7 linked regions of the Homo sapiens genome follow. The protein of the gene in region 6 purifies or fractionates together with the protein of the main gene of each other region. This does not show direct contact. Each region holds a gene or a part of one and is shown on either strand. Other genes may lie near its edges.

Evidence for each region.
Region 1: the proteins of AKAP10 (region 6) and HNRNPUL1 purify together in Homo sapiens (tandem affinity purification; one large-scale study listed by IntAct). This does not show direct contact.
Region 2: the proteins of AKAP10 (region 6) and UBAC2 purify together in Homo sapiens (tandem affinity purification; one large-scale study listed by IntAct). This does not show direct contact.
Region 3: the proteins of AKAP10 (region 6) and BTAF1 purify together in Homo sapiens (tandem affinity purification; one large-scale study listed by IntAct). This does not show direct contact.
Region 4: the proteins of AKAP10 (region 6) and TOR4A purify together in Homo sapiens (tandem affinity purification; one large-scale study listed by IntAct). This does not show direct contact.
Region 5: the proteins of AKAP10 (region 6) and DCTN4 fractionate together in Homo sapiens (co-fractionation; one large-scale study listed by BioGRID). This does not show direct contact.
Region 7: the proteins of AKAP10 (region 6) and BTN3A1 fractionate together in Homo sapiens (co-fractionation; one large-scale study listed by BioGRID). This does not show direct contact.

The regions. Positions count from the first base shown.
Region 1 is NC_000019.10:41,270,872-41,274,371, reverse strand, and holds part of HNRNPUL1 (heterogeneous nuclear ribonucleoprotein U-like protein 1), read right to left. Parts: intron 2,291-3,500; coding exon 2,137-2,290; intron 391-2,136; coding exon 317-390; intron 1-316.
Region 2 is NC_000013.11:99,340,354-99,343,853, reverse strand, and holds part of UBAC2 (ubiquitin-associated domain-containing protein 2 isoform 1 precursor), read right to left. Parts: coding exon 3,289-3,500; intron 1-3,288. UniProt on the Homo sapiens protein: Restricts trafficking of FAF2 from the endoplasmic reticulum to lipid droplets.
Region 3 is NC_000010.11:91,989,770-91,993,269, reverse strand, and holds part of BTAF1 (TATA-binding protein-associated factor 172), read right to left. Parts: intron 1,152-3,500; coding exon 961-1,151; intron 1-960. UniProt on the Homo sapiens protein: Regulates transcription in association with TATA binding protein (TBP). Removes TBP from the TATA box in an ATP-dependent manner.
Region 4 is NC_000009.12:137,276,523-137,280,525, reverse strand, and holds the start of TOR4A (torsin-4A), read right to left. Parts: upstream 2,801-4,003; 5' UTR 2,619-2,800; intron 1,874-2,618; 5' UTR 1,837-1,873; coding exon 565-1,836; 3' UTR 1-564.
Region 5 is NC_000005.10:150,752,518-150,756,017, reverse strand, and holds part of DCTN4 (dynactin subunit 4), read left to right. Parts: intron 1-463; exon of another isoform or gene 464-487; intron 488-2,360; coding exon 2,361-2,539; intron 2,540-3,500. UniProt on the Homo sapiens protein: Part of the dynactin complex that activates the molecular motor dynein for ultra-processive transport along microtubules.
Region 6 is NC_000017.11:19,975,029-19,979,088, reverse strand, and holds the start of AKAP10 (A-kinase anchor protein 10, mitochondrial isoform 1 precursor), read left to right. Parts: upstream 1-1,260; 5' UTR 1,261-1,409; coding exon 1,410-1,497; intron 1,498-4,060. UniProt on the Homo sapiens protein: Differentially targeted protein that binds to type I and II regulatory subunits of protein kinase A and anchors them to the mitochondria or the plasma membrane.
Region 7 is NC_000006.12:26,401,010-26,405,074, reverse strand, and holds the start of BTN3A1 (butyrophilin subfamily 3 member A1 isoform a precursor), read right to left. Parts: upstream 2,801-4,065; 5' UTR 2,663-2,800; intron 941-2,662; exon of another isoform or gene 1-940. UniProt on the Homo sapiens protein: Plays a role in T-cell activation and in the adaptive immune response. Regulates the proliferation of activated T-cells. Regulates the release of cytokines and IFNG by activated T-cells.

The sequences.
Region 1 (3,500 bases), on a different chromosome or scaffold from region 6:
TCAGGGTTTTCCAGATTGCTCCTATATCCACTGAGGAGTCTCCCTGAAAATCCTCTGAGGTTAGTACAGCAGATTTACTCCTTCCTGAAGGGAAGCTCAGAGAAGTAGAATGACTTGCCCAGGGTCCCACTGCTAGAGTTGGGAGTAGGTCTTTTGCCTCCAAACCAGTACTCTTGCTCCAGAGCTAAGCCGTGTCTCACATGTGGACTAACAATGTCTTTGGACGGTGCCCAGCAGGGATTCTGGTGAAGGTCAAGACCACAATTTCCCCATACTGACTGTAAGGCAGAATTAGATGCACACTCCAAAGACTTACAGGTGTCAATAGCAACAAGGGTATCATCAAAGTCATCTTCATCCTCTTCAGCAGGAGGCTGAGGAGAGCGGCCCCTGTATTAGAAACAGGGGTTAAGTCATACAAGAACAATGGATGAGCACAAAGGAAAGAAAATGAATGTTCTGCTGTAATCTATGAGTGGCCTCCAGACTGCTTCCTGAATCTCCATTTCCTTCCACAGAGGTGGGCAAAAGAACTCTGAAACCCTACATCCTTGCAAGGAGAGCAATGACCGTCAACTCCTACGGTGGAGACAGGGATTGAAGAAGGCATGCTCTGCTGAAGGGGGGCATCAGAATCATTTAGGGAATTTTTTCACTCTTTTTTTACACCCAAAGATTCTGATCCATACCCTCTGCATGTTGACAACCACTTCCACACTGATCTCTGTTACTGTTTGGAGGCTGTGGTATCCCAAAAGGGTGCTGGCCAGGAAGGGGAATGTGCAAGAGCCTATATAAATCCCAATAATTACTATCTATCCATGTACCAGGCTTCTTAAAATCCTACATCTGTAAGAATTTGAGATGACCCATTTTTTTCAGTGTCCTAAATTATAAACGATATTCATTTTCCTACCAAAACGCTAAAAAAGGGACTTAACACTGTTGGTTTCTGCTGTACAGGAACGAGGAAGAAGGGTAGAAAGGTAGAATCTAACACTCAGGGTCCTGCCTGGACAGTCTGGGTGGTCGCAGTGCACTGCATGCACAGATGGGGAGCCCATGCCCATTTGGCTGCTGACTCTCCCAGCAGCAGGCTTCCCTCTGGTGGAGGGCCCCTCTGGCCTCGCCAGGCCAGGGCTAACATGGATGAGCTGTGCTCATCACATGTTAAGTCCATTCTAGGAAACTTTCCCTGCCAGCCCAGGATCAGAGCGAGTGTTCTTCCTTTGCTCTCCATCAGTAAGTAGCTTCCAGGCTTCTGCTCTGTGGGAGGCAGTGGAAGAACCCCATATGAGGTGGGATCCATGTCCTAACTTAAATCATAGCCTGTGAGATCCAGGCCCTGTCTCAGACAGTAACAAGCTAGTTAGAAGGTGGACTCCGCCAGATAGGAAATAGAATGTCAGATGACTAGTCCAGATGAGTACAGTGGCCATTCCTAGTTTTCATAATTGCAAAAGGCTTCAGACAGGAACTGAAGGAAGGAAGGAGGGAAGGGAAGGACTTGGTCTGGAGGGAAAGGAGGGAAGGGCTTGTTAGGGAAGGGAAATGACCAAAGCAGAGGCTGCTCCCTCTTCTGAACTCCTGAAACTCACCTGCATCCTGACTACTCACCTCAGAGGTTGTGGCTTACTAGTGTATGTGTCTGAGTCCCCACACTGGAACAACAGAAGGCAAAACCCACTGTCCATCTGTATGTTGCTAGTGTCCAGCCCAAGAGTGGGCACTTCGTGACAGCACTGTGAGAACTGACTGAATGAGTGGATGAATGGGAAGAGGATGTGTATTTGGGAGTAGTGTTAGGAAACAGATATTTCTTTCATTACGGGTATCAAGCAGCTGACTGCAGGGGCAGTAAGGCAAAGGACAGAACAGGCAGGCTGGCATCTCACGCGTGAAAGTCTAAGATATTTAGAAGTTACCCTGCAGGTAAGAAGGGAGGAACTGGGGGAAGGACCAAAAGTTTAGGAAAGCTGAATCTGGTAGCAAGTACGGGAAGGGACAGGAAGAGTGTGAAAGCAGAGGGAATCTTTACTCAGCCCCTCTAGGTTAGTGCAAATGTCCCCAGCAAGCACGAGGCTATGGATATAGAAACCTACCAGAGCAAGGGTGACTGCTGCCTCATACACCCACCTCCTATCCTCTCGGTGCTCAAAGTACCCCCGTCCCCGGTTTTCTTCATAAGGCCTCTTTCGACTCTGGAATTGCTGCCTGTCTGGCTTGAGTTGAGAAGCTTCAGGCGGGAGGAAGCTGGTGGGTGCTCCTTGCTTCATCTCTGTCTTCATTTCTATTGTCAAGACAAATTCAGATGGTCAAGACACTCGCAAGCTCCCCAGCTATCACTTTTCTGGTCCCTTTTCCCTTGAGAGATGTGAGCAGGATCCTCACTACAGTGATGAAGGGCTGGGCACAGGCAGCTTGCTGAGTTCAACAGAAGCCTGCTGAGCCAGCCAAGAAGGCCATACTGGAGAACAGGGTTAGGATCTGAGATACCATGACCCTAAATTCTCCAATTTCTCTTCCCAAAGAACCTCTCTGCCTTAGTTCTTACAAAGCTTCTTCAGTCTGGCAAGGGAGGGGGAGAGGATGAATTCAACAGGGTACTGTGGTCCTGCAGCTAACTCTACGGGCTTTAGTTACCCTACCAAAAGAGGCCAGAATCACTCCGGTTAAGCCATCCCATAGGTGCAATAACCTCTTTAAGTCATACCATTAACAGAAAGTCAGGATGGGATACCGTGCTGTGGACCACGGGTAAGTCCTAGTCTCAGGCAGACTCCAGGAATCAGTGCCTAACCAAGAGCAAACCACAGATGTAGGCTACCTTCATTTCTCCCACAGCATTAATCCCTGATGCTGAAGCTCATTCACATCTACTCATTTCTGCATTCAACCCCAGACCATTTTGGATCACTCCCCAGCTTCGGCATGTGGACCACATCTCTCAGAAAAGTCTCCTGGTTCTCTAGGGCTGGGATGGTGCTCAGCCATCCTGAAGAGAGCTTCCCTGGTTCCCAGCAATAGGTTGGGCTCACACAGGGCTCCTGATGAATGTCTGTGGATAACGGCACAGAAAATATTCTCCTGTGGCTGAATGATCCTACAAGTCTCACAGAGCCTGACACAAATCTGCGGTTTAACCTACATTCAGTAAAGTTCTGAGCCACCCACAAGAAATGTCTGGGGATTTAACTTTGTGGATGAACCAGAATGGCGTTAGACAAAATCAACCAGATACACTAAGAAAAGGCACTGGGAGGCCACAACACAGTAAAAGCAGCACAAAACTGGGGGTCAGTCCGGGCTCCATCAGTTCTCAATAGTGGGACCCTGCTTTCCAAATAGTAAGGCACAAATGATAAGGAATGCTGCTTATTAACCAAGAGGACTAGCCTGGGAGCAAGTATGCTAGGTTGTAGCCCCAGCTCTGCCATCGGACAAGCCAACTCCTCAATCTATAAAATGGGGAGGAGAGGCCAGGCGCAGTGGCTTACACC
Region 2 (3,500 bases), on a different chromosome or scaffold from region 6:
GTGCATGCACACAAATACGGCAGATAATTTCCAGTGGTGGTTTAACAAAAGAGTTCTCTACGTGGTGATTTATCATACTTATGTGAAGAAAACTGAGACACAGCTGAGTGAAGAAGTTCAGCAGGAGGCTAAGTGCTCAGGTTTGGGTGTACCCATGTGCGGACCCTAGAAGAGAACTTAGGAAGCTTAGGAAAAAATCAAGAGTCTGGTCTGTGCTGCCCAGCAGACCACTCAACGTAAAAGCCCAGCAAGAGCCCAGGGGCTGGTGTCCTGCTCTGGACTTCAGATCTGTTAGTGAGACCATCCTATGAAAGTGGAGGAGTCTGACAGCAGTGTAGACAGCCATAAAGGCCTGTGCCACTTCACAGGCGCCTGGTGGGAATGCACGCTCCAGCAGGGCAGGGGTTTGGGTCTGTCTCATTCCCTGAGGCCTGGGTACAACCTGGCAGATCCCGTGATGTTCCAAGTATCTGGGGGGAAAGACACCGTGCGGAGTTTACAGCAAGGCAGGAAAGGAGAACCACAATGGGGGTCCGTAGAATCCTGGAGCGAGGGCGTGCGCAAACAGCCAAGAATCCCACTTGCATAAACTGCTGCTGCACCATGAAGTGCCTGTCTGTAGGCCACAAAGTGAGCATGTGGTCAGCAGTGGAGACCCACCAAGTTACCAAGCCAGGTGGGCCGACAGAAACCCATCATCAGATGGACACGGGCATCTGGGCTCAGCATAGGTGGGGCTGCAGGGCATGGGTGAGCTGCAGAAGCAGGCATGCCAGACCACCCTGGCAGCCACCTCTGCTGCACCACAGCCTCTTCCCAGCTAACACCGACTACCACAGCTGGTGGGCCCCTCATGACCAAGTGACAGAGGGGAAAACAGCCAAATGGACAGGCTGGCTCAGGACATGAGTGGCAGCTGAAAGAAACGGCTGCATGATGGCTCAATCTTGAAAGACAGCGATCAGGGGAACCCCCTATGGGCAGAGCCTGGGCAGCACATTTGGTCATCAACTCTGTGTGAAGAGAAGTGGCCTGAGGCAATTACACGTGTGGATCTGCTGGGCATGGCAGATCACCTGGTTGGTCGGTCAGGGGACTGGAAGGGAGGGAACAAGGAGGATCCAGCTAAAGGAACAGCATCAAGTGTCTTGCAGGTCGTGCCCACCACGGGCATCCACCACAGAAAAGGCACCAAATGGAAGGTGGACAGAATGACTGTGGCTCCATCACCAGATAACCCAGCGCTGGCACACGAATGGATGGCCATGGTGGTAGCACAGAGGAATGTGTGGGTCCCCCTCACCTAGGCCGACCTATCTCCTGCCACTATGGAGCATCCAACCTGGCATCCACAGAGACTGTGTGTGCCTGATAACTACCGTCTGCAAGCAGAACAGTCACTCAGCGCCGAGACTATGCTGGGCCCTTTCCACTCTGCAGTGTTATGGAACACACTGTCTCCCACCCCTTGCCCCTGCCCCAAATTCACACGCTGAAGCCCTAACCCTACGATGTGACTGTATTTAAAGGTAGGAACTTTAAGGAGGTAATTAAGGTTCAAAGAGGTCGTACGCATGGGACTTACCCAACAGGACTGGTCCCCATTTTGGGACAACTCAGAAGGGCTCTCCCAGCTTCACTGTGCTCCATAAGACCAGCGAGGCTTTTGCTGGAACTGCAGCTGCTCCCTCTGTCCCATCTTGCTGCCTTCGCCAGCCCGCCCCCATAGATACTGATGCTGACGGTGTTCTCTCATAAACTCTTTGTATAAAAATCTTCCTGGGGAGGCCAATCTGAGAAATGCAACTTCTCTGGTTTGCTTATGAGGACAAATTCAAAGCTCTCCAATGGAGAATCTCCTCCCAGGATTCCAAAGGTATCTCAGACAACATATTTCCCCCAAATCTGCTCTTTTGATATTGGTGAAATGGAACTATCAGTCATCTATCTAAGATTATCTAGGCCAGAAACATCAGAACCATCCCCTACTTCTTTCTCTCCCTCATAAGCTCTGTGCCTCTACCTTTATACTCAATCACTACTCAGTTTTTCTGACCTTGATCATTCTGATTTCTCATACCTTTCGCTCTTCTCTCAGTTTCCTTGAAGGATTTACCTCCTGCTAAATACGAGGCTTCATCTGTAGCCTGTGTTCATCTTGGATGTAGCTCTTCTCTTACAGAACTTACTACTTCTTTGCTTTCGGCTCTCAGCTCTCATCCCTACAGAGGTGACTCCATCACCTATATATATATGTAGCTTCCACATTTCCAAGACAGAGATGTCCATCCTCCAGCTTTAAATACACCATGGGCATCTTTATGGCATGTTCCAGAGTCACTCAAATTCAAGCACATCTTTAAGAAACAACTTTTGCTTCTCTATTTCTCTTGTAGACTCTGCCCCTAATAAGCTGCCCCCTTCCTCCCCCCCCCTGATATAAACTCTGGGACCTGCATCTCCAATGGGACTCTAAGGACCTCAAACCTGATTTCACTTCTCCAAACCATCGTGAGATCTGCAGACCTACTTCTTGCATCCAATGCTAGTGGAAGACAGAGAGATGGCAGAGGTAACTGTACGGTTTACAACTACCCCAGGGGTAAAGAAGGTGGAGGCGAAAAATGGGGAGCCCTGTGGGCTGGCTCACAGAAGTGTCCAAGAAAGATCAGGCCTGAGGTTTTAGCCTGATGTGCACTAACCCTCCTTCTCTCACTGCCCATGGAAGACAAATGTAGTATCAGATTGTTTGGATGCAGAATTTGTAGACAAATGTGCAATAATTTCTGATTATTGATAGCAAGGTTGAGAAAACACAGCATTTTTTTTTATCTACTCCTTGGTTGTTCCACTGAAAATCTTCTTGCCTTCATATTCTCTTCATTTCAACCAAGGAAAATCAAGAAATTTTACATTTGTTCTTCACTCCATAGCATATGATTAGCATTTTAACAGGAAGACACTGTGGCTTTTACAAGATTATAAAAACAGATAAATAGCACATCTTGTTAACTAGGTTGGTGTTTCTCTAAGAAGTCATGCTTATCTAATATAGGTGGAACAAGAATGTCCAGTTTGACCAATCTTTCAGCTGCAATTTATTTTTTACCTTTTTAAAAAACTAAGAATGGCCACTAACAGAGACCTACAATCTCTTTGGAAATGTCAAAATCCACTTGCAAGGCACTGGAATAAAATGTAGTCTCTATCTCACATGCAATCACAGAGGAAAGATTTGCTTGGGCCACTGAGAATTTCTAAATTTTTAGTGATTATTATCACTTTTACCTGCTGCTGTCTCTGTCGCCTCCCTTGTGCAAACTGAGAGAACATCAGCTGCCGGTCCAGCAGCTCCATTCTCTGCTGTCTCTGGATGTCCAGCGTGGCTCCCATCCCAATTCTGGCTTCGCTGGTGGGTTCTGAAGAAGAGAAGATGGGTTCAAGTGTCCAAGAAAAGAATTTTGCCATCCAGCTGGGGATGCAGAGCACCTGATGCACCT
Region 3 (3,500 bases), on a different chromosome or scaffold from region 6:
TAATTCTTATTCAGCAGTAATTACGGTCCATAAATCTGTCCCCCCAAAAAGATATTTATATTTTTAAAATTATGTTTAATTGGAGGAATAACTATGCAAACTAGAGATATAAATATCAAAATCACAGTAAAATTTTTATTACAATTATTATAGGGAAATATTGTCAATGAAAAAGACTTTACAGAATGTTTTAAGGGAAATATAGATAAGCTGTTGATTTTAAAAAGAAACTTAAAAGGGGTTTATATTTTACAGAAACATGTCTTTTAGTATTGATGGTTTACTGCTGAACTGAGGTACATTCCTATGCCTTGCATTCCAAAGAACTAACTAGAGCATTCATTCTATTGCTAATAATGTGACTGTCAGATTTTCAAAACAAAACACTTTTTAAAAACCACTGCTTGTTAAGACTGTACGGTGTAACAGGTGGACCAATGGGAGATAATGGAAAGCCTGAATAGACCCTCACACATATGAAGCCATTAACAGAGGTGCCATTATAAATCAGAGAGGAAAGGATTCAATAGTGGGATAACTGGCTGTTCATATGAAAAATAAATTTAGAACCCTACCTCACACTAAGCATTTAATAAATATCAAATTGACTAAAAAAGTCAGGTGGGTTGCAATTATATGACATTTGTGCATTGAAAGGACAGAGAAAAGTTAGCTTTCACTATTATTGAGCACCTTCTCTACAGTCACTGCTATAGGACTGAATTAGTTTACAAGGCTGTCTTGCCTAGGAAGATAAAGTTAAGCTGGTAAAAATTACAAGAGACATGAGATATTTGAAGTTTGCCGTTTTTCTGGATCATATTGTTGGAGTACTCCAAAAATTAATCCCATTTCTTTACTTAAAAACAACTCTGGAAGCTAATACAACTTAGTTCTCAATTTGTAAGTCAGATATTTGTTTAAAAATCAAAGCATTAAAAAAAAAAAAAAACTACTTACCTCATCAAGTTCAACAAGAATATTTCCACTACTTCCTGCAGGAAGATCTGCTATTTGAGCTTTTACTGCTTTGGGGGTAGGACCTCGCCTACTTGTGATAGCAAAGGCAGCTTTCTGGTGCCTGTAGAGTGTAATTATACCTCTGTGCTTGGTGACAGTATGGTGCATTCCATCTTTTTCTGAGGTGGATCCTAATAAGAAAAAAGTTAAACAACCTTTTAATCATAATATTGGTGATACCAAATGTTTTCAGCTCCATAAGAGATAAAACATTTTTAAACTATGTCTTTTAGGCCTCAACTTTTATAGGCCAATGACATTTTCCTTAGACAATGAAATGGCAATAAAATAGTCTATTTGCATAGGATTTATACCTAATACAATCCAGGTTGCAGAGCCATCTGAACAATGAGAAACAGCACATGAAAAAATTATTGTGACTTCAGTTAATGTGTTTGTGTGTGTATATATGTGTGTATATATATATATATATATATATATATATATATATACACACACACACACACACACACATATATATAATTTTTTTTTTCTGAGACAGGGTCTTTCTCTGTTGCCCAGGCTGGAGTGCAGTACCACCGTCTCAGCTCACTGCAACCTCCACCTCCTGGGCTCAAGAGATCCAATCCTCCCACCTCAGCCTCCTGAGGAGTTAGGACTACAGGCACACACCACCACACCCAGCTAATTTTATATTTTTTGAAGAGATAGGGTTTCACCATGTTGCCCAGGCTGGTCTCAAACTCCTGAGCTCATTCCATCTGCCCGCCTCGGCCTCCCAAAATGCTGGGATTATAGGCATGAGCCACCATGCCCAGCCTATTAATTTTTTGTTGTTATTTTTGAGATGGAGTCTCACTCTGCCACCTAGGCTGGGGTGCAGTGGTGCAATCTTGGCTTACTGCAACCTCCACTTCCCAGGTTCAAGGGGACTCTCATGCCTCAGCCTCCTGAGTAGCTAGGATTACAGACGCACGCCACCACGTCCGGATAATTTATATATATATATATATATATTTATATTTATATTTATATATTTTTTTGAGACGGAGTCTCGCCCTGTCGCCCAGGCTGGAGTGCAGCAGTGCGATCTCGGCTCACTGCAAGCTCAGCCTCCCAGGTTCACGCCAGTCTCCTGCCTCAGCCTCCTGAGTAGCTGGGACTACAGGTGCCTGCCACCATGCCCGGCTGATTTTTTGTATTTTTAGTACAGACGGGGTTTCACCATGCTAGTCAGGATGGTCTCGAACTTCTGACCTCGTGATCCACCCGCCTCGGCCTCCCAAAGTGCTGGGATTACAGGCGTGAGCCACTGCACCCAGCCTAATTTTTATATATTTTTTTAGTAGAGATGGGGTTTCACCATGTTGACCAGCCTGGTCTTGAACTCCTGGCCTCAAGTTATCTGCTCACCTCGACCTCCTAAAGTGCTGGGATTACAGGCATGAGCCACTGCCTGGTCCCTGGCCTATTAATTAATTAATTATTATTTTTTGAGACGGAGTTTCACTCTTGTTGCCCAGGCTGGAATACAATGGCGCGATCTCAGCTCACCGCAACCTCCGCCTCCCAGGTTGAGGCCATTCTCTTGCCTCAGCCTCCCGAGTAGCTGGGATACAGGCATGCACCACCATGCCCAGCTAATTATATATTTTTAGTTGAGATGGGATTTCTCCATTTTGGTCAGGCTGGTCTTGAACTCCCGACCTCAGGTGATCCGCCTGCCTCGGCCTCCCAAAGTGCTGGGATTACAGGCGTGAGCCGCCGTGCCTGGCCTGGCCTATTACTTTTTAAAAAATTATTGTGCCTAAGCATAACGAGAAATATTAAAAAATATCTCAAGCAAGTTCTCTTTAAAAGCAGAGTCACCATGAATTAAAAAAAAAAAATTGGTCACTGCAAAATGATGCTGCCTTATATAGCAATGGACCAGGGGGGTAAGAGGGGGGAGAATGACCCCAATGTATTTTTAAGATGTTAATATTCAAAATGTCCACCTTTCTTCTTCTAGTTCATAAACATATTTTTCAAGATCTATGCTGCACCAAAGCTGTAAGTCTACTACATTTCAAATAATTTGTTTTCCCAAAATCTTGTTAACAATCACACATACAAAAAGCACATAGGACTGAGTCATATGAATAAAACACTGGTCTTTAAGACCTGCCTACAGAGGGCAGTTCTCATTTTCCATACAAATTCTCCAAGTGAAAACAAAAAAGTTGGTTAAGTATTATTTACTAAAAGTACTAAAAGTTCACTAATCTCATAAAACATGCACTAAATTAGGGAAACGAGAGATTTTATAATGACTTTTTCAGTCAATAGGGTTGCTCCTTTGGTTAAGGAAAAAAAATTCATTAAATAACATTTGATACAATTACCTTTTCTAGCTTGATACAGTAAACCATATAATGATGGTTTTGAAGGCAAAGGTAAGGGTGAACACCTGTCTTACAGATTTCAGTCACCTTATATCAGCTATCAGATCTTCCATGAATGGCTTTTTTGAACTTACA
Region 4 (4,003 bases), on a different chromosome or scaffold from region 6:
GCCTCCGCTCCCCTCCCCTTACTGTCAAGACACTCCAGCCTTGAGCTCCTGAAAACACGACCTGAGTGAGGGGTGGGGTGGGTGGAGAAGGCAGCCAGAGCCCCAGCACTGTCATGGTTGGCTGTGGCCTCCTCCGGGGTCATCTCCAGGGGGGCCGGAATGAGAACCCCACTTCAGCACTGAGCAACACGCGACCACCCCCAAGAGGCGGGGTCACGTCCCAGCTGTGTGACCCCGGGAATTGTTGGCCCTGAGATCATCCTTGTACCATGGGAACCCACCTCTTGGGGCCACAGGGAGAACGCACCAGACCATGCCTGGGACGCCCAGCAGGGCAATGGGCAAGTTTGGGAGGGAGGTGGCTGCTGTCCTGCCGCCCCCAGGGACAGACTCCGGACTCTGAGGCGGGTGTGGACCTGGAAGCAGAGCTCCAAGCTGATCCGCACCCACCAGCCGGGCAGCCACAAATTCACTAGAAACCTCAGGGGCCTGCACCAGCCCACAAGGTCCCTGGTCGCCCTCCTACTGCCGCCATCAACCCAAACGTCCCGTCCTGCGCCTCCACTACAGGAGGTTCACCGTGGCCACCACCTGCTTGCAGCCGGTGACGGCAAACTCGCGGCCAGCCACGCGGTAGAAGCTGAGCTGCGCGGCCAGGTTCTCCGCGCGGGCCTGGTCAGGAAAGAAGCCCTCACCCGCCATCTCGTCCCGGAAGCAGCTGACCACATCCCGCTTGTCCAGCAGCAGAAACGGCACGATGGCCGCGGCCTGCCACAGCGGATGCTCCCGGGACAGCACAGCCAGCAGGCTGGCGCGCAGGTCTTCTTCCGCCTGCGCCGCTGCGGCCTCGGCACTGCGGAAGCCGTCGGGGCGCAGGGGCAGCGCGCGGGACGCGTTCTGCAGCACGAAGCGCGTGACCTCGGCGCCACCCGCGCCACTGAGGAGCACGTAGATGGCGTTGTGGAAGTGGTGGGAGCGCTGCGGCTGCAGGAAGCCGTGCAGCTCGTCCAGCAGCGGCCGCGGCATGAGCTCCACGTCGTCCAGCACCAAGAGTGGGGTCTTCTCCTCCGCTTCGGCCCGCGCCACCACGTCGGCCACGCGCCGCGCCAGCTCCTCGCGGCAGTCCTGTGCGGCGCGCGCCTCGGGGCAGTGGTGCCGCGCATGGTATTGCAGCACGAGCGCGCTGTCCTCCAGCACCGAGCGGAAGTGGCGCGCCAGCAGGCGGCCCACGTGGCTCTTGCCCACGCCACTGGGCCCGTGCAGCGCCAGGAGGAGCGGACGACTGTGCACATGCGTGGCCAGGTAGTCCCGCATCAGCGCCACGATGCGCGATACGGCAGCGGGCTGGCCGAACACCGCGCGCTGCAGCGCTTTCTCCAGCCCGTCGAGGTCATAGCGCTGCGCGTTATCGTCCAGGTTCTCGATAGCGTTGAGAACTTGGAAGCCCACGATGGCGACTAGCAGCAGAAGGCAGCGCTGCGCGCGGCTCCTGTGCTCCACGCGCGGCCGATACTTGCGCGAGGTCTCCGGGTAAAGCACCAGGCGGCTGCGCCGGCGCTTCTTGCGTGGCGTCCTGGAGGGTAGCTCCGCGGGGCTGTCGAAGGTGAAGAACTTTGGCTGGTCCAGGTCCGCGCGCGGTGCCCGGGGGCTGCAGCCCGGCCTGGGCGCCCCGGTCCCGACGTCGGGCCCCCCACCCGGCTGCAGGAGGCGCCGTTTGCGTAGGACACACACCCGGCGGCGCAGGCGGAGCACAGCGCGCACGGGCGCGATCACGCACCGGCCCGAGGCTCGGGGGGCCGCGGCAGCAGGCTCCAGGCTGGGCTGGCCGCGGTCCATGTCGCAGGAACGGCGCTCCGCATACAGGTCGCCCTCCCTGCAACGGGAAGACGGGGAGGGTCTCTGGACTCCCGCCACTGCCCTTTCCCGCGGGCCGCCGGAACCGGTCCCCGGAGTGATCTTACCCCCTGGGAGTCCCGTGGGGTGCGGCCCGGGCTGCCCCAGGGCCAGGGGCCTGGTCGCGGCCTCGCCCCTCAGACCGGCAAGCGACCCCTCCGCCCCTCCGCCCCTCCGCCCCTCCGCAGGGCCCCGATGCAAATCTCTCGGGTCTTCCCATAAACGGCCGCGGGCCTTGAGGAAGTGGCGGGGTAGAGGCTTATCTGGTGGCCGCCCCGGCTTCCTGGAGGAGTCGTCGAAGGAGTCAGTGGCCGCCCAGGCGCCCACTGGGGTGAACAGTCACCCCCGGACCCTGCCCCCGCCCGCGGCTCCCACTGGACTGGGCCGTCTCCCAAGGAGGGGCCGCGGGAAGCAGAGGCCTGAGCGCCCAGGAGTTCAGAGACGCCCCCACACGCTCCAGAACACTTGGCGGGGGTCTGGCTGGAACTTATGATTTTGAGAATAGGCCCGGGCCCCGTCCCCAGGCTCAACCCAGGCCTCCCAGCCCCGACTCCAAAACTGGGGTCCTCCCAACACCCCTCCAGTGAACGAGCTGAGCAGTGCAGGGAGCCCCCCGGAGACTAGTGGAGGTGAAACGAAAAGATGGACAGAAAGAAGAGGCCGGTCGGAGCAAGAGAGCCACTGACTGGCAGGAACTGGGCCCTGGGCCCCAACCCACCCCCTACCTGCAGCTGGTCCACTGCCCTCAGCTCCGCAGGCCCCTGCCTGTGCCAGACGCTGGGGCCTGAGACTCCAAGCAGGAAATGCGCCTCCCAGGGCGAGGGGGTGGGCCAGGGGCCTCCTGGGCCAGCTTCGGCCTGGAGGGGCAGCGACACCTGTGGGTCCCCAGGGAGCGGCCGGCCGGAGTAGAGGAAGCTCTGGGGAGGTTTCCGCTTCTATGCAAAGGAAGTGAGTCAGGGGGTGCGGCCCAGGCGGGACTTGGGCTGGACGGAGGCGCCAAAGGGGGGAGGCCTGGCCGGCTTGCCCAGATCCCCTGGCCGGAGGTCACATTCCCGCTTCAGTTCTCTAGCGCTCAGAGCCCTCCTGGCTTGGTCAGGCTCAGGACACCTGGTGAGGCCGAGGGCCCCTGCTGCATGCTGTGCCCCCACCCTGGGCTCCTGCACCTCAGCCTGTCCTCCAGGGCCCCCACCTCCCCCAGGTTATCCCTTCCACCTGTCACCCCACACACAGGGCTTACAGCTGGGGGGAGGGGCTCCAGGCCCTGTGTAAGCAAGGCGGGAGCAAGGCAGCAGCACAGGGGGCGGGCAGGGTCCTCTGCCGAGCTGCATACCCCCAATCCCTCTCTTATTACTCCTCTCCCCGCTTTTTCATTCCCCTCCTGACCCCAATCGGGGGCCCCCCAAAGTGGGCTCATTGTCTTTCCTTTCCCCCTTCCTCCGTCCCCAGCCTGGAGCCCCCTGCCCAGGACAGGCCAGCACACACAGACGGAAGTTCTATCACGGAAAAAACCACGTGCGGCTCAGGGTCCCTGTGGGGGTTGGGGAACAAATTTAGAAACAACTTGGGCCGGGAGCCAGGAGCTGGAGCTCTGGGCCCTTCCCCCTGCCGGCCTGCCTAAAGGACCCTGGACTCCTCCTACCCTGGCCCAGCCTGGAAGCCGCCTTCCAAGGAGGGGCAAGGTGGCCGCTCCAGCCACACCAGTGCTGCTGGCATTCAGCTCAGGACCCCGCAGTCCCAGGGACGCCCCACTCCTCCCAACAGCCAGCCCGGGCCTGATGGTTCCAGCTGTATATTCCTCACACACTGCACCCAACCAGACAGGCTCCATCAGGGAAACCGGTCGTGGGTTGGGGGTTTCCATTCTCTCCAGGGTATGGGGTCCACCGGACTATCACGCTCCCCTCCAGGAGCCAGGCCTAGGGCTCCCCTCCCCTGTGCAAGGGGTGCTCGGGGGCCCGGATCCCCAATTGTCGAGGCCGCGGGGGCCGCACACACCAGGTGGAATGCTGGTGCTCTTTGGGCCCACTCCCCGGCCTCTGTGGGACCAGAGCGGAAGGAGGTTGGCTGTCCAGGCCCCGTGGCCCCAGCACGGAGGTTGGGGTCCTTTGGG
Region 5 (3,500 bases), on a different chromosome or scaffold from region 6:
AACCAGCTCTTTTTCATTTTTAAGCATCACCATTGCCAAAGATGAAATCCCCTTTGATTTTTGAAATAGATTTTCTACTTTAGAACAGTTTTGTACTTCAGAATTATGGTGAAGATAGTATGGAGAGTTCCCATTTACCTCACATCCAGTCTCCCCTATTGTTAACTTTTTACATTAGTGTGGTATATTTGTTACAATTAATGAACCAATACACTACATTTTATTCAGATTTCCTTAGTTTTTCTGTGGTCTCCTTTTTTTCCAGGATTCTTTTCAGGATATCACATTATATTTATAGTTATGTCTCTAGACTCCTCTTGGGTGTGGTGTGATAGGAGAATCTTAAAATTTCCTTGGTTTTGATGACCTCAAAAGTATTGAGGAGTACTGGTGAGGTATTTTATAGAATGTCATTTCATTAGGATTTGCATGATGTTTTTTTCTCATCAGACTAGGGGAATGTATTTTGCGGAGGAGAACCACAGAGGTAAAGTGCCATCTTTGATTACATCATATCAAGGGTAAATACTTATGACTTGTCACTGTTGGTGTTAACCTTGATTATCTGGCTTGAGCTAGTGTTTGTCAGGTTTCTCCACTGTAAAGTTACTGCTTTTCCTTCTTTTTTTGTACTCTACTTTTTGGAAGGAAAATTACTGTCACAGCCCATAAAGACTAGAGAATTATGCTCCCCTGTCCTTGAGGACTATCTGCATAAATTATTTGGATTTGGAATTCTTTTGCATGGAAGATCTGTCTCTTCTCCTCTTGTTTATTTGTTTTTTAAATCACTTACTTATAGGACAGTGGGATTATGAATATTCATTTTATATTTTGGCTTGTAATCCAATACTACTTTATTTATTTTGCTCAAATTATTTCAGCTTTGGCCATTGGGAGCTCTTTCAGTTGACTCCTAGATCCCTTTGACATACCCCCATCATTAGGAGCAGGAGAGAGTTCTCTGTTCATTACTTTGATCATTTTCTTACCAGTACTACAAGATACTCCAGACTCATCTTGTGTGTATGTTTTGTGTGTATTTTTTTTTTTTTGAGACAGGGTCTCACTTTGGCGCCTAGGTTGAAGTGCAGTGGTGCAATCTTGGCTCACTGCAACCTCAACCTCCCAGGCTCAAGCAGTCCTTCCACCTCAGCCTCCTGAGTAGCTGAGACTAGGCACATGCTACCACACCTGGATAATTTTTGTATTTTTTTGGAGAGATAGGCTTTTGCCATGTTGCCCAGGCTGGTCTTGAACTCCTGGCTCAAGCACTTCACCTGCCTTGGCCCAAAGTGCTGGGATTACAAGCGTGAGCTGCTGTGCCCAGCCTCATCTTGTATATTTTCTGTCTCAGTCTTAGAGTTGTTTCTCCAAGGAGCCTTGGTTCACTTTATTGGAGAATAGTCTTAGAAACCAAGATATGGCTGCTAGGCTTGCTCATTGCTACTGGATGGTGTTTAGTTTTTAGCTTGAAGTGAAAGTCCTTTTGCTGTTAGTCATACCCCCATACCTTTATGGATGTGAACCACTATTATTTGTCTTTCCTGCCCTGAGAAGTAACCCCTGATAACCAGATACTGTTTTGTATACTTTCCACAAATTAATTTTTATCATTTAATCCTCAAAGCTTCCTTGTAAGGTGAGTACTATTATTATCTTCTTTTGATAGTATCCAGATGGCAGACTATAACAGATAATGCAAGTTATATTATAGAACAGAACTTCAAGCAGGTACAGGACTGCAGGTGAAATCTTGATAATCTGTGCTGGTGGGAGAGTTAAAAGCAAGAAGACATAGGGACCTCCTAAAGGAGAAATGTTGGCTGAGCACTAGGAAAAGTAGCATTTAAGGAGAGAACAGAAAGCCCTGAAAATATGCTGCTTCTGAACCATTCCAGTTTGATAGCATTGTTTGCTTTCTGTTGAAGCTCTCTGGCACAGCAGTCGGTTATTTTCCAAATCCAGTTTCACAGCTTCTTGTATTGTTGACTCTAAGTTTTCTATGGCACAGTTGGTCTGTCCTCTCTAAAGGCATAAGCTGTGACAGTTCTCTTCCTCAGAAATCTTTGTGATCAATATAAGCATAAAAAGAGTCTGGAATCATAAACTCCATCTGTTAACAATGGTTCTCTCTGTGGAGTAGGATTGGGTTGGGCTCTAATTCTTACTTTGGCGATAACTGCATATTTTTTAAACTAATGAACATATAGTACTCTTGAACTGTTAAAGCAAAGTTGGTAAGAGGCCTGCAGAATGTTACTGTTTTTTCTTGAGAGACACTTGTCCTTATATTTGTTCTCTCTTGAATTCCTTGATAAATATTTGTTGAATGAATGGTTGTGTTTGTCATGTCACAGATGTGCCAATTGTTTTGACTGTCCTGGCTGCATGCACACCCTCTCTACTCGGGCCACGAGCATCTCCACACAGCTTCCAGATGACCCAGCCAAGACCACCATGAAGAAAGCCTATTACCTGGCATGTGGATTTTGTCGCTGGACGTCTAGAGATGTGGGCATGGCAGACAAATCTGTAGGTGAGTGAGATGGACTTCAATATGAAATTTTGTACAATTGACAGTGCTATAATTGCCCATAGATTATTATTTCTGTAACCCGTTGGGGCGATAGGAGCTAAATTCAGAATATTTTGTCATTAACTCTTCTGTGTTCCCATATGTTCACATTTGTAGACCTTAGTGTTTTATCTGAGATGGGATAATATTTAGTTTTCTTAGACTTGATAAAATAGCTTTTATAAATCTGGTACTTTCTTGGAATCAAAATATTAATGCTCTTCATGAAAAATAAACATTCATGTTAAGACATCATGGATAAAACTAAAAGATAAGGCCGGGCACGGTGGCTCACGCCTGTAATCCCAGCACTTTGGGAGGTTGAGGCGGGCAGATCACAAGGTCAGGAGATCGAGACCATCCTGGCTAACACAGTGAAACCCCGTCTCTACTAAAAAATACAAAAATTAGCTGGGCGTGGTGGGGGCACCTGTAGTCCCAGCTACTCGGGAGGCTGAGGCAGGAGAATGGCGTGAACCTGGGAGGCAGAGCTTGCGGTGAGCCGAGATCGGGCCTCTGCACTCCAGCCTGGGTGACAGAGCAAGACTCTGTCTCAAAAAAAAAAAAAATCTTTAAAGATAAAAATGACAAACTAAGAAAAATAGTTGGGTCTTATATAACAGGCTAAAGATGAATACTCAGAAATGAGGAACGCTTATAAGTCAATAAGAAAAAGACTTAGTAGAAAAACAGGCAAAGGATATGAGCAGCAATTCTCATAGTAGAAATAAAAATGGTCAATGAATATGCAAAAAGATGTATTCGACTTCCCTAGTAGTCATGTAAATGCAAATTAAAGCTTCCTTCTATTTGGTACAACATGTTTAATCTGGTTGTATCAAGTGTTGGCTAGAACATAGGAGAATAGTTCTCTCATACACTATGGTAGTCTATCTTGGAGACCAATTTTAAAACATTTATT
Region 6 (4,060 bases):
CGTTCTTCCTTGCACTTACCTATTTAGAAAGTTTTAGGCTATTAGCAAATCGGCTATCAGTTTAAGAGTGTGAGGTCCCGCTCCAGCCAATGGATGCAGGACATAGCAGTGAGGACGACCCAAATGCGTAAGGGATAAATATGTTTGCTTTTCCTTTGTTCAGGTGTGCTCTCGACATCGTTCCATCTGCGATTGAGCACCCTTTCTGCAGAAAGTAAAGATTGCCTTGCTGGAGATCTTTTGTCTCCGTGCTGACTTTTCTTCGTGGCACCGATTATCTATTTCTAACAATTTTGGTATTTCTAACATTCTGAACAATCTTGGGCTAGTTGTCTCTTCTGGGCCTGTTTCCCCATCCGTCACATGATAAACTTCATTGGTTTAAAAACCCCAGCGAACATTTATTGAGTTACTATTACCTTCCTGCCCTCCCCAACCCCAACCCCAGGGAGCAGTTACAACCTCAGCCGCTGAGCGCACTCGCCGGGTGTTAAGAAGCACCAAAGACAGGGAGGCTTGATTGATTTTGCTTTGGGAGTAGAGGGTCAGAAGATTCACAGGAAAATGGCATTTGAGCAAGGATGATTCACTGGAGCTAGCTTTTAAATACTGGCGAGGCTTTTATGTTGCAGTCCCTTACAAAGTTGAGCATTCGCAGGGACTGCACTCCGAAATAAGCCCGCTTCCCCTTTTCATTCGCTAATGATCCAGGGAGCTGCTGGTTCCGCATGCGGCAGGTTGTGCCTTTTCCTAATCAGGGTTCTGCATCGCCTCGAACCCGCAGGCCGTGGCGGGTTCTCCTGAGGAAGCAGGGACTGGGGTGCAGGGTGAAGCTGCTCGTGCCGGCCAGCGCCTGTGAGCAAAACTCAAACGGAGGAGCAGGAGGGGTCGAGCTGGAGCGTGGCAGGGTTGACCCTGCCTTTTAGAAGGGCACAATTTGAAGGGTACCCAGGGGCCGGAAGCCGGGGACCTAAGGCCCGCCCCGTTCCAGCTGCTGGGAGGGCTCCCGCCCCAGGGAGTTAGTTTTGCAGAGACTGGGTCTGCAGCGCTCCACCGGGGGCCGGCGACAGACGCCACAAAACAGCTGCAGGAACGGTGGCTCGCTCCAGGCACCCAGGGCCCGGGAAAGAGGCGCGGGTAGCACGCGCGGGTCACGTGGGCGATGCGGGCGTGCGCCCCTGCACCCGCGGGAGGGGGATGGGGAAAAGGGGCGGGGCCGGCGCTTGACCTCCCGTGAAGCCTAGCGCGGGGAAGGACCGGAACTCCGGGCGGGCGGCTTGTTGATAATATGGCGGCTGGAGCTGCCTGGGCATCCCGAGGAGGCGGTGGGGCCCACTCCCGGAAGAAGGGTCCCTTTTCGCGCTAGTGCAGCGGCCCCTCTGGACCCGGAAGTCCGGGCCGGTTGCTGAATGAGGGGAGCCGGGCCCTCCCCGCGCCAGTCCCCCCGCACCCTCCGTCCCGACCCGGGCCCCGCCATGTCCTTCTTCCGGCGGAAAGGTAGCTGAGGGGGCGCCGGCGGGGAGTCAGGCCGGGCCTCAGGGGCGGCGGTGGGGCAGGTGGGCCTGCGAGGGCTTTCCCCAAGGCGGCAGCAAGGCCTTCAGCGAGCCTCGACCTCGGCGCAGATGCCCCCTGAGTGCCTTGCTCTGCTCCGGGACTCTTCTGGGAGGGAGAAGGTGGCCTTCTTGCGCGAGGTCAGAGGAGTATTGTCGCGCTGGTTCAGAAGCGATTGCTAAAGCCCATAGAAGTTCCTGCCTGTTTGGTTAAGAACAGTTCTTAGGTGGGGGTTAGTTTTTTTGTGTTTCTTTGAGGACCGTGGATCAAGATCAAGGAAATCTCTTTAGAACCTTATTATGGAAGTCTGAAGTTTCCAAATGTTGAGGGTTTTATGTCTAAAAGCAACACGTGAAAAAATTGTTTTCTTCACCCAGTGCTGTCTTCCAATTTCCTCTTTGGGGGGAGGGGTAGTTACTGCTGTTACTAAAATAAAATTACTTATTGCTAAAGTTCCCCAACAGGAAGACCACTACTTTTGATGACTTTGGCAAGTTTGCTAACTACTGGAACCCTAACTTACAAACGAACTACTTACATTTTTGATTTCCAGTTGTATTACCTGCCCAATGTTTACGTAGAAACAGCTTAATTTTGATTCTGGGTAACGTTGTTGCACTTCATTAAAAATACATATCCGAAGTGAGCAAGTATGGGTCTGTGGACAGCAGTGATTTTTCCTGTCAATTCCTGTTGCTTCAGATAAAATGTACCAGACAGAGGCCGGGCGCGGTGGCTCACGCCTGTAATCCCAGCACTTTGGGAGGCTTGGCGGGTGGATCACCTGAGATCGGGAGTTCAAGACCAGCCTGACCAACATGGAGAAACCCCGTGTCTACTAAAAATACAAAATTAGCCAGGGTGGTGGCGCATGCCTGTAATGCCAGCTACTTGGGAGGCTGAAGCAGGAGAATCGCTTGAACCTGGGAGGCGGAGGTTGCGGTGAGCCGAGATAGCACCATTGCACTCCAGCCTGGGCAAAAAGAGCGAAACTCCGTCTCAAAAAAAAAGTACCAGACAGAAATGGGTTTTGTTTTCTTTTTTTGTTTTGAGACGGAGTTTCGCTCTTGTTGCCCAGGCTCGAGTGCAATGGCGCGATCTCAGTCTCGGCTCACTGCAACCTCTGTCTCCCAGGTTTAATCGATTCTCCTGCCTCAGCCTCCCAAGTAGCTGGGATTACCCATGCCCCACCATGCCCGGCTAATTTTTGTATTTTTAGTAGAAACGGGGCTTCACCATGTTAGGCTGGTCTTGAACCCCTGACCTCAAGTGGGCCTCCCACCTCGGCCTCCCAAAGTGCCAGGATTACAGGCATGAGCCACCGCGGCCAGCCAGAAATGGGTTTTGGAAAAAGCACTAAACAAAATCGAACTTGGTTTCATATGACAGCTCTGCTGCTAACTGTAACAGGGGCAGACCAGTTAACCTACTTTTCTGTCTTCTGTCAGCTGAGAATTAGATGATTCCCAAAGGCCCATTGAACTCTGAATGACTTTAAATACTTCTTCTTAAGTGGGTACACGGTTTTGGTAACTGATGCCAGGTGATGAATGCATGAAAGTGCTTAATGAATGAAACCGGTAAAATAGTAGGAGGAAGCTTTATTGGTAAGGCAGGGGTATACCTAATAGCTCTCTAATTTATTGGTATTGAAGTGGTTAACTTTTGTTTTTTTAAGGGGGGAAAACATTCTAAGAATAATGAGGCAAACTGCATATTGCACAAGAGACTGTTGTCTCTATTCAACAAATACCTTTTGAGTGTCCAGAGTCTGCCAGGTGCTGTGCTAGGCCCTCACGATTGAGTAGTGAACCAGAGAATGTCCCTGCACCCATGGAGCTTATTGTCTACTGGGGTAGACAGATAATAAATAAGCAAACAAATCTTCTCTCTTCTCCCTTTCGCTCCATGTAAGTGTGTGTGTATAGGTGTATACTTACAAGTTGAGTAAAGTGTTATGAAAGATTAAGAGGAGAAATGCATTTTGGTTAGATGTTAGAGGACTCAGCAGGTGACCTTGAAACTTAGAGCTGAAGGATCAGTAGGAGGTAACTAGAGAGGCCAGGGAATCGCATGTTCAAAGGCCAGGAGGCAAGAAAGAGCATGGTGCCCTTCAAGAGAGGAAAGAAGGCTACTGTGACTGGAGCATAGATGTAGGCAAGTGTTGGGTGATTGAGAGCTCTACGGGCCATGGTTAGGTTTTATTCCTAATGCCGAGATGCCAAACATGGTGGTTCATATCTGTAATCCCAGTATTTTAGGAGGCCGAGGCAGGAATATAGCTTGAACCCAGGAGTTCAAGACCAGCCTGAGCAACATGAGACCTGTACAAAACATTTAAAAAATTGCTGGGTATGATGGTGCACACCTGTGGTCCCAGCTACTCAGGAGGCTGAGGCAGAAGGATCACTTGAGCCTAGGAGGTGGAGGCTACAATGAGCCATATTTGAGTCACTACACTCCAGCCTGGATGACAAAGTGAGACCATGTGTCAAACAAAATACAGAAA
Region 7 (4,065 bases), on a different chromosome or scaffold from region 6:
GTGGGGGACCTGAAGTCAGTCAGGGGCTGAACCCACCACATTTAATCCAAGGCTAGTGATCACAGAGCTGCAAATAAGACCAGGCCTTACTTACCTTTTCTTTCTTCCCTTCATAAAGTCATTCAACAAATATTTACCAAGCACCCACAAGGGGCCAGGCCCATGATATAAGGGTTAGGGACACAAAGAGGGTAAGCAATAAGTAAAGGCTCTAAGATTCACAAGCTCTTTGGTCTCAGACATGGGACAAAACCATTGCAACTTTATTTACTTATACAATATCATGAAGTGTGAAATTTAGAATTGCACAGTTGGCCCAGCAGTTCCACTTCCTGATGTCAAGTCGAGCAAAGTACTTGCATGGGTGCAGACAGAAGCCTCTGTGAGAATGACACTGCAGCACTATTTTTAAAGTATAAAAATGGTAACCAACTGAACCAGCCACCCATCAGGAGACTGCTTAGAGGAATGACGGCTCATCCCTCGGAGGGAATTCAATGCAGCAGGTAAAAAGAGTTGATTTGTTGTCATGAACCTAGATAACGGAGACACACTAAGTGATCAAAAAACACCTTGCACAACTATACTAAAGATTCAATTGAAGAACAGAAGCAAAGCTATCCATTTCTGCATAACTATTTATGTAAATGCCTGAAAAACTCAAAAAAGACGCATGCTAATCTGAAGATCAGAGGTTAGTGAGTGAAGGGACACTTGGCCTTTTGTTCCCTTTACTTTTAAAATATTGGAATGCTTTAAATTTAAAACTTTTCGTGTATTACTTAACAATAATTATTATGAGTTACAATAGTGACGGGAACATATTAGCTGCTCAGTAAATACTAACTCCTCAACAGTTTCTTCCAAAACAAAGGAGCATGAGGCCTGCAGCCATAATCCCTCTTGCTGTGGGTCTGGGAATGGCCTCTGAGAACAAGATCTGCAGAGGGAGGTGGGGAGGGATGTAAAGGAAACAAGAGAACAGAGATCTGTGCAGCCGGCCATGCTTCACCCCTGCCTGGATCTTGCACCCACCCAGAGTAAACAATGCATTTCACCACATCTTTTGCTCCTCGAAACTGCTCTTTATGTTGCTATAGAGGGGGTATCATTTTTATTATCATTTTCCCTGAGTTAACAATTTCTCTGCTGTCCTTAGAATGAGACATAAGTTTTTCTTCTTCATAAAGGATATATTTTTTTTCCTGATTATAGTCAATATTGCAAATGAAAAAAAGCATAAAGGAATACAAGTTTAAGTAGTGGTTCATGCCTGTAATCCTTGCAATTTGGGAAGTTGAGATGGGAGGATCCCTGGAGCCCAGGAATTCAAGACCAGCCTGGTCAACATAATGAAACCCCATCTCTACAAATCAATCAATAAATAAAATAAAATATCTATAGTAGTAGTCATATACTTTGGTAGTGAAAAGGTAAATATTTCTGGAAGTATTTTGACCATATATATATAAAGGGCCTTAAAAAAAGTTATATGCTTTGCTAAGGAATGGCTATTAAAAGAAAAAAAAAAGGTGTGTGCTTTGACCCAAATGTTCCACTTGTAGGAATTAGTGTTGCAGAAAAAAGAAAATCAGGAACTAAGACAAAAATTTATGTTTTAGGCTGCTCAATACAGTAAAATCTACAATAGCCAAATGCAGAAAAGAGAAATAGTCCAAACTAGGGAAGTGTTTAAAAATAATTTTAAAGGCTGGGTGTGGTGGCTCACGCCTGTAATCCCAGCTCTTTGGGAGGCTGAGGTGGGCAGATCACCTGAGGTCAGGAGTTTGAGACCAGCCTAGACAATATGGCGAAACTCCGAATCTACTAAAAATACAAAAACTAGCTGGGTGTGGTGGCGTGCACCTGTAATCTCAGCTACCCAGGAGACTGAGGCAGGAGAATCACTGGAACCCAGGAAGCAGAGGCTGCAGTAAGCCGAGAACATGCCACTGCACTCCAGCCTGGGTGATAGAGCAAGACTGCATCTCAAAACAAACAAAAAAATTGTATATTCATACAATGAAATAGATTGTATCCATTGGATAGCATTCGTTAGGTTTGGGGGAAATGATGAATAAAAGGAAAAACACATACTGTTCCTAAAAGATTTTAAAACAAGGTTTAATGTATGGATCTAACATTGCTAAAATTATAAATAATTGCCCTTCATTAAAAACACGATTCCTAAAGGCTGCATGGAAATCTCTTTTATGATTGAACCATGCATTGTTTGTCTATCCCCCGCCTGTTGTATATGTATGCTGGTTCAGGTTTTTCTACATTTTTAATACTTCTGTAATGAACAAATTTACATATGAATCTATAAAGGACACCTCTTTTTAGAATCTCTTAGAATAGATGCCTTGAGTTGTCCAGAACAGATTTTAAAGATTGTTTGCCCTTTTCTGACTACAATACGTTCTTAAGAACATGCAATTAGACTATTTCTTCACCAAATCCCAAACTCTGCAGGTCTTTATTCTTTGCACTACTTCTCCCCTTTCCATGTGTCCACATGTGTGCGTGCGCACCCCCTCAGGCACACACCCCTTTCTCTGGGTGAGTACTCTCCCTGCATGCCCACTCACCACTCTCAGCGATTCAGCCCCTGTCCTCCCAGGCATTGTGAACCAGGCTCTAATCGACTTCCCCCACTCACCTCTTAGCATTCCCCTCTGAAAATCACAGCCCACAGAAGAAAGGCAGTTAATAGTTCTCCATTCTTTCTACTATGGTTAAATCTCCTTCTGGAAGAAAGGAAAAAGAAAGCAGAGACTGTCGGGTCATCGTGAGGAATAATAACAATCTCTCTTTGGAAGAATAAGTTTTTTGATTGGCTCAGAGGTGATGTTTCTCATCAGTTGCTGGGCAGAAACCACTGAGGAAGGCTGAAATGAAAACTGAAAGTACATTGAATTGTACACGTTGAAGAAAAATTCCTGCCCTACCTCCCTTACTGTTTATCTCTTTCATTCTTGTGTGTATATACGTATTTCTATATAGTCACTTGTCTTAAGTCTTTTATCATAATAGAAATATCAGCAGAACACAATGGGAAAAGATTTTAATGTGGTGAAGAGAGAAAGATGAGCACTAATTAAAATGCTACTGTGGCAGTTTGCTAACATTTGCTTGCATGAATATGGGTACATGGAGGAGGAGGAGATTTTACTACAGAGTCAAATAAACGTATGAATGGAAAGAAAACCAGACACAATGCACTTTTTTTTTGAAACGGAGTTTCACTCTGTCACCCAGGTTGGAGTGCAGTTGCAGGATCTTGGCTCACTGCAACCTTCGCCTCCCAGGTTCAAGTGATTTTCCTGCCTCAGCTCCTGAATAACTGGGATTACAGGTGCTCGCCCCATGCCCGGCTACTTTTTGTATTTTTAGTAGAGACAGGGTTTTGCCATATTGGCCAGGCTGGTCTCAAACTCCTGAGCTCAAGTGATCCTCCCTCCTCAGATCCCAAAGTGCTAGGATTACAGGCTTAAGCCACTGCACCCGGCCCACAATGCACATTTTTAAGCACCTCCAGCATCCAGGCTTAGGATCTGTTATCAAAAAATGTAATTTTTCTGGCTTCCAGAGGCAGTGCTGCTTGACACGTTTTACCTTTTTCAGCAAATTTTTAGTGCAGGTGTTTCTGAGCATCTCCATTCACCCTCAGCTCCTGTTCTGTGCTACACTGTATTTTCCTGTGTATTTGTTTCTCCTGCTGCCAGTGGAGTACATATTCTCTGAGGCCAGACTCTAGATAAACTGTGAATGCTGTCTCTGTAAGATGTCTATAAAACAAATTGGTTCTTCCTGTGGCCTAGGACCTCAAAACAGACTTTCTGGGATTGCAAGTCAATGATCGAAGTTCCTAAGGCTAAGATGTGACTGGGGCTGATGCAATTTAATTATATTGTAAATGTTTGAATTTAGACTGTGTAGTATCTGATTGAGATGGCTGGTCCCTTCTGCATCATGCATTCCCCCTTTCTTCTTGGTGATAAGGCCTAATTTTCTTAGGTACTACAACGTTCTTTTCCATCTGGTAGATAGCAGAGACCAAGG